Homo sapiens: one gene and its partner. The protein of the gene in region 1 interacts with the protein of each later gene in a pairwise test. Each region holds a gene or a part of one and is shown in the gene's direction. Other genes may lie near its edges. The genes, in order: PPARD and PRMT3.

Evidence for each region.
Region 2: the proteins of PPARD (region 1) and PRMT3 interact in a two-hybrid assay, tested with the Homo sapiens proteins (one large-scale study listed by BioGRID and IntAct).

The regions. Positions count from the first base shown.
Region 1 is NC_000006.12:35,408,558-35,412,379, forward strand, and holds part of PPARD (peroxisome proliferator-activated receptor delta), read left to right. Parts: intron 1-1,656; exon of another isoform or gene 1,657-1,805; intron 1,806-2,429; 5' UTR 2,430-2,530; coding exon 2,531-2,660; intron 2,661-3,822. UniProt on the Homo sapiens protein: Ligand-activated transcription factor key mediator of energy metabolism in adipose tissues. Receptor that binds peroxisome proliferators such as hypolipidemic drugs and fatty acids.
Region 2 is NC_000011.10:20,460,496-20,464,317, forward strand, and holds part of PRMT3 (protein arginine N-methyltransferase 3), read left to right. Parts: intron 1-1,484; coding exon 1,485-1,672; intron 1,673-3,822. UniProt on the Homo sapiens protein: Protein-arginine N-methyltransferase that catalyzes both the monomethylation and asymmetric dimethylation of the guanidino nitrogens of arginine residues in target proteins, and therefore falls into the group of type I methyltransferases.

The DNA.
Region 1 (3,822 bases):
ATTAAACAAACTATCAAGTCCCTGCAATGCAGTGTAAATGAGTAAAGAGCCTGCAGGGGAGAAACTGCCACTAGTGGAGACCATGCGAGTGGGCAGCCGATTGCTTGGCTCTGGGGGTGGGTGCCAGAGGCATGCAGGTGCCCAAGGGCCAGGTCTGCCCAATTTTCAAGAGAAGCCAGAAAACCAAAATTTTTAAAGGTTTTTTCGTTCTAACTCTATTTTGAAAAAAGTTCGGTGTTACAGAGTAAGTTGCAGAGATTGTACAGAGTCCCCACATATCCTTTACCCAGCTCACATTAAATCTTACATAAAGGAACACTGGTACAATACTATTAACCAAAGTCAGTGTGTTGTTCAGACCTTACCAGTTTTTCTGCCACTGCCCCCTTTCTGCTTCGGGGATCTGGTCCAGGATCCCACATTCATTTAGTTGTGTCTCTGTGGTCTGCTCCTGTCTGTGAGGCTTCCTCAGTCACAAAGCTAGAGGTTTACGTGACCTTTTCCAGGTTTTCCCACTCTAATGATTTGGAAATCATACATCGGCATCTTGAGACATCTTTTGAGAAGTAAAGGGACTTGAGCTGATTGAATGTTGATCACTCCCTCTCATCTTCCACATTATTAAGTTTTGCCTTCTTATTTTATTATAATTTAAATTATTTTTAAGCCAGGCACAGTGGCTCATGCCTGTAATTCCAATACCTTGGTAGGCCAAGGTGGGCAGATTGCTTGAGCCCAGGAGTCCAAAACCAGCCGGGGCAACATAGCAAAACCTTATCCCTAAAAAAAAATACAGAAATTAGCTGGTGTGGTAGTGCACACCTGTGGTCCCAGCTACTTGGGTGGCTGAGGTGGGAGGATCCCTTGAGCACGGGAGATAAAGGCTGCAGTGAGCCATGATTGCGCCACTGCACTCCAGCCTAGGCGACAGAGTGAGACTGTCTCAAAAAACAATAACAACAACAACAAAAAAACCCATCAGAAAACAGCTAAGAGTTTTGTGGTGGTGTTTTATTTTAGGTTCAGGGTACAGATGCAGGTTTGTTATGTGGGTGAACTTGTGTCACAGGCGTTTATTATACAGATTATTTCATCACCCAGGTACTAAGACTAGTACCCGATAGTTATTTTTTCTGCTCCTCTCCTCCTCCCAGCCTCCACCCTCAAGTAGGCCCCGAGGTTATTGTTAAGTCCAAGCAAGGGAAGGCCTGGTGGAAATGAATGTGTAGCCTTAACATGTTTTGTACAAACTTGGCTGTACATTACAATCACCAGGACAATTAAAAAATAAGAAACCCAATGTCCAAGCTGCTCCCCAAACCAATCAAAGGAGAATCTCTGGGGATGGGACCAGGCATCTGTCTTTTTAAAAACTCCCCAGTGACTACAGTGTACAGCCGAGTTGGCAGGTCTAGAGCAGGGAGAGAGAGCAGAAGGAGTCTCTGATCACTCCAGGTTCTGGTTCTGATGAGTGGGTAGACAGGCAGGTGGGTTGCTAAAGTAAAGATTACTAGAGGACGAATGGGTTTGGGGAAAATGATGGGTTCTGTTTGGATAGATTGAGTTTGAGCTGTCGGTAAAATATCTGAGAGTTGGGGTCCCACAGATGCTTAACATCTTAAAGCAGATCTTTTCTTCTCCTGATCCTTCCACAAGGTCTGGTGCAGACATTTCCCCGCTGGGAGACTCTCCACAGTACCTCATGATCTTATCATCTCTGACTGTGGCATTTGTGGATAATGTTTTACTTGCTAAGGGTTGGAACTGTCTCCTCCTGGGTGATGTGGACGTGGCATCACCACCCAGTAAGTTGTCACCTTGGAAAGACTCCAGGATGGAGCACATCTTCCTTTTTCTGATGTCTCTGCTATTGAGGCCATGGTTGCAGATCTGCTGTCAACATGAGCCAAGAACAGCAGGGCTTTATGTCTTTTTTCCACACCCAACCACTGAAAGGATGGGACTCACCCCTTCAGGAACAGTAGCACAGCAGAGCCGTGATTCTTGGGCCTGAGTGCTGATAGGGACAGGGTCGGGGATGGGAGGCGTGATGCATATCTGGATCTCCAGGTGGGCTGGAGAGTTGGGAAAAGCCCCTCAAGTCATTCCAATGTGCTTCCTGGAGACTCAGAACAGAAGGCAGCAGAGGAGGCAGGGAAGGGTGGCACAGTGATGTGTCACCTCTCTAGTTTATGGAGCCTGCTCCGAACCCCACAAACCCACTACAAGAGCCAGGTGGGAAGGGTGATAGGGCAGGTGACTTGTGATACAAGGAGCAGAGACCATGGTATAGCACTGCAGGAACTAGGGAAGGAGCAGGAGCAGAAGAACCCCCTCCATGACAGCAGCCCCCAAGCGTGCCCCACTCGCACCATCCTCTTCCTTGTCACTGCCTCCCCTGACCTCTTCCTGTCTTCTCCTCTGCCCAGGCTGATGGGAACCACCCTGTAGAGGTCCATCTGCGTTCAGACCCAGACGATGCCAGAGCTATGACTGGGCCTGCAGGTGTGGCGCCGAGGGGAGATCAGCCATGGAGCAGCCACAGGAGGAAGCCCCTGAGGTCCGGGAAGAGGAGGAGAAAGAGGAAGTGGCAGAGGCAGAAGGAGCCCCAGAGCTCAATGGGGGACCACAGCATGCACTTCCTTCCAGCAGCTACACAGGTGAGGAGAGGACTGGCAGGGGACACGGGGCAGAGGAGGCACAGCCCAGTGCAGTGGGGATCCTGGCCCTCTGCAAACGCCATCATGTGGGGCGCAGAGTAGCAGAGTGCTGAAGGACTGGAGCCGGAAGCCTGGGTTCACGCCCAGTGCGGTGGGGATCTGCTCTGCCACTCACCAGCAGTGGGGCCTGGAGCAAGCTGCACCACTTCCTTCTGTAAAACAGGCCAAAGGATGGTAGGTGATGTGGATATGGGCTTTCGTGAGAATTAAATGAGTGGGCATCTGTAACACATGTCATCATCATTATTAGTATTCCCACCACTGTTAACACAAGGCATCTGAGACCAATCTCCACTAACAGCACACTAGAAAGATCAGCTGTACCTGGGATTGTTATGATCAGTCGAAACACACAGTTCAATTGGTCTGGTAATAATTATACACATCATCATTGAGCCGTATCATAATTAGATAAAAATGCTAAGCAGTTAGTATGAATAACTCAACTAATATTATTTTTATGCAGCCAAGCAGTTGTAGCTTCTCCTGTCTCACTTATTGGTTCCCCTTTATTTATCAGCAGTGCAGACAGTTTTCTCTAGTACCCTGTACTGTTCTGTCATCTTCATCATCATCATGTTATGTTTACCTTCAAAAGCACCCAGAATCCATGCAGCCCCTGGCTTTCCCTGCTGCAGTTCCCCCTGCTTTTTTGTTTTTGTGGTTTTTGAGACAAAGTCTCCTTCTGTTGCCCAGACTAGAGTGCAGTGGCACAGTCTCAGCTCACTGCAACCTCTGCCTCCTGGGTTCAAGTGATTCTCCTGCCTCAGCCTCCCGAGTAGCTGGGATTATAGGCGTGCACCACCACGCCCGGCTAATTTTTGTATTTTTTTAGTAAAGATGGGGTTTCACCATGTTGGCCAGGCTGGTCTCGAACCGCTGGGCTCAAGCAATCCACCCACCTCAGCCTCCCAAAGTGCTGGGATTACAAGCAGGAGCCACCGCGCCTGGCCTGATCCCTCTGCTTCTTGCTTTCTCCCACCACTTCTCTCCTTACCCAAGTGCTGCAGGCCTGCACATGCAGCTCATCCTCGCTCCTCCCCTTAGAGGGAACTCAGGGTCATAAGGATATACTGCTGGGAGTAGACACCCTGCACTCGCT
Region 2 (3,822 bases), on another chromosome or scaffold:
AGCTTCTCGGTCAAGTCCCTTGAATTCTAGTATTCATTATCTATTCTCCCTAGGTCTCATGAACTCCCTTTACTTATCTTTCATTTATATGCCTATGGTCTCCAAATTTATGTCTTCAACTTAGATATCCTTTTTTGAATTTCAGACCTTTGTATTCAGCTACATTTCAGACATTTTTATTTGTTTATCTCTTAAGCACTAAATGCTCCTGTTCCTTTTGAATCTGCCCATATTTATGTCCTATTATAATGGTTAGTACCACAATCTGTGCTGTTACTAAAGCTAAATACTGTCATCCTTGACCTTTTGCCCCACAGCCACTCAGCCTCAAAGTCCTCTGAGTTCTACTTCATAAATATCCCTTGAATACATCTCATCCTTTCCATTCCCACAGCAATATCCTAGTTCAGATCACCTGGTTTATTTTAACTATCTCTTAATTTGTCTCTGTTTTCATCTTAGACCCTCCCATTATTCTCCACATTGCATTCCAGGTGGTTTGTCTAAAATCAAAATCTAGTCATGTTGCTACCCTATGTAAAATTTTTTACTGGATTATCATTATTCTTAGAATTAAGTCCAGTTTACTAATTTGGTTTACTCAGCATGTAGTCTTTGGTCTCTACTTACCTTTCTAGCCTTGTGTCTTATTTCTCTCTCAATTAGATTGTATATGGGCCATCCCATCTATTGTGACCCTTTATGCACACTGCTGCTCACTTTGCCTAGAATACACTTTCCCTCCCCACTCCCAACTTACTGGGCTTCAGTTCTTATCTTATATATTATCCCTTCTCCCCTGCTCCAGCCAAGTCTGAATTAGCTGGTTTTGCCATGAGCTCCCTTAGTACCTTGGATGCTCCTGTTCTTAGTATTTATTACCTCACAAATAACTATGCATTTCTTTTTCAAAATAGTCTAAATATAAGTTTATTGAGGATAGTGATATGTGTCCATAGTCTGTAAATTAGACTGGCACATGTGTCTGGCACATACTTTATGCTTATAAATATTTTTCTATTAAATGAGAGTAATATGAAGTGGTCTTCTGTATAACTATAAAACCCTATTACATGATTTTCTTACATGCTACATATCTTTTTAAATGATTTGTCCTTTTCTGCATGTTTTTAGAGGAATATAGGAATAAGTAAAGATCTAGTACCTTTTAAGTTAGCATACTTTAAGTTTTAATATCAATAAATATGTTTATTTCAGAATTGTTTAATTATATAACCCTATTTTAATTCAAACCCTATCATTGGAATCCCTGTTTTAATTTTATCATCATGATAATGCGTATCTGTTTTTAAAAGAGGCTACAAGATGAAGCATGGTTGTTTTTCCTGATCTATACCTTCATTAATCTCCCATTGCTAGTAATCCTTACTGATGGATTTGATATTTATATTTAGGCTTTAAAAAATTATATTCCATAAGAAAGGGAGATAATGCTTAATTGTTGGGCATTTTGTTTGTTACAGTCTACCCTGACATTTGCACTATCAGCCTTGTAGCAGTGAGTGATGTGAATAAACATGCTGATAGAATTGCTTTTTGGGATGATGTCTATGGCTTCAAGATGTCCTGCATGAAGAAAGCAGTTATTCCAGAAGCTGTTGTGGAAGTTTTAGATCCGAAGACTCTTATTTCAGAACCTTGTGGTATTAAGGTAGGTGTTTTACCAACTTTATTTTTTATAATGGTATTGCTATTTTTCTTAGTTCAGCATTTGAAAATAATATATTGATTTTATATATGGGCTTTCAAAACAGTACTTTTCCCATTGTAATCAGTCTAAAACAAATTGAGGTCATAATATTTACCAGTTGACTATATCATCTCTTTAGAATCACTTCTCTGTATATTAAAACTCCTTACACTCAGTTTTACAGTCCTTCAAATCTAACTCTGAACCGGTTGAATAATTTATATTTACTTTGGCTTAATAAGGTAAAAAGTCCTGCTGTATTATCAGTTCTGCTTCATCATCCTCCCCAGCCTTATTTTAGCTTCTCATTTACAGCCAGATTATTCATTCGTGTCATATATTCCACACAGTTTAACTTCTCTCATTCAGATTTCTTCCAGCGTTTTCAGATTAAGTAATTACATATAGTAAATTTGCCCATGAAACGAAAGCCCTACTATGTTCAGATTTCTCAGTTAATTCCTTTTGTGTTTTGTCATCTTATTTTTTGCCATGTTAATCTCTGGGTTTATTATGAATTTTTCTATGTTGAATTTACATGGGTTCACTAATAACTTTGCAGCAAAAAACAATACTGCTTTTCTTAACTCTTGGTCTGTTTCAACTAGATAATCAAATCTAGAGCAGTATGTTCAGTGTTAGGTTCAGGATATTGTCTTTGTCTCAAGAGAAAAAAAAAAAAAGAGTCTCACTCTGTCGCCCAGGCTGGAGTGCAGTGGCGCAATCTCGGCTCACTGCAATCTCCGCCTCCCGTGTTCAAGCGATTCCCCTGCCTCAGCCTCCCAAGTAGCTGGGACTACAGGCATGCACCACCATGCCTGGCTAAATTTTTGTATTTTAGTAGAGATGGGGTTTCACCGTGTTGACCAGGATGGTCTTGATCTCCTGACCTCATGATCCGCCTGCCTCGGCCTCCCGAAGTGCTGTCTTCTCGTTTTAATCACGCTGTTACTTTCATATAGCATCAATATTTCTTCTCTGTACAAAGCAGATATTTAGTACATATTTAATTTTCTTAAATGGATAAAGCATTAATAGTATAGAGTAATAAATGTGAAGTTTCTTAACAAGAGCAGGCTGATTAAAAGTGCGTTCAGCTTTTAAGAAAAACAGTCTGCTTGATGGTTATACGACTTCAGTGCTCTGGTACAGTGAGAATAAAGAGTTTATTTGGGCTCTTTGGCTCAGGATAGGAGTGTACAGTTATAACCAACTAAGCCTTAAAGTTGAGCAGAAAGAGGAGAGTTGGTGGAGGTTGCTGATTTCTCTCTCTAGTGATCTCTGCTTAATGCAAAAACTGCCATGAATAAATAGTTGAGACAGAAAAATTTAGACCTGAAAATAAGGTGTTAAAAAGTGTATGTACTCTTTTTTTTTTTTTAACATTTATTTAAGTAAATAGTTTGTTCTGTATTTTCCAGTCCTCCCACAAACACATTGTACTGTTAAAATGTTTTCTCAAATTGTTTTCAATAGTGTCTCAGATGTGTGGTTACATTAATTGCATTCACTGGGTTATGATCTACTCCTGGCTGGATCTACTCAGCTGATGACGGTCTTTACAGCACACTTCTGGTTAGACTGCTGTAGTTGAAAGGTGATTCCATCCCTTCTCCAAAGTATAATGGAGAAGGATTTGAAAAAGGGCAGAATGGGAAAATAAAGATATTTCGCTATTTTTTCTCTGGATCGAAATCTCCATAGTTTTGCTGTTTTGTTTGAATTGTGTGGTTTCTCCTCATATCTAACAAAACTTATCTTCAATTATAGACATGAATTTTAAAACAACTTTCTTTTCATTAGCATGTGTTTTCAAGTTGGCAGTTCCTATAAATGTATTGACTGTTATCACACATATTTTATAGCAGTTGTGGTGGGTGTACCATACACAGTAGGCAAAATGATGTTAGGTGAAACACAGGAAAACATTTTTTATTTGAAAGTATTTATTTTAGTGTGTCAGGAAAACTTTAGCACATTAGCACTATGATTTGATAAATACTATTGTTTACAAGGAGCCTAAGTTAAATGAATTTAAGAAAAAATTAACAAGATGATAGTACTAGTACTCCTTAAACTTATAAATAATTCCAAAAATTAGCATGTGAGTA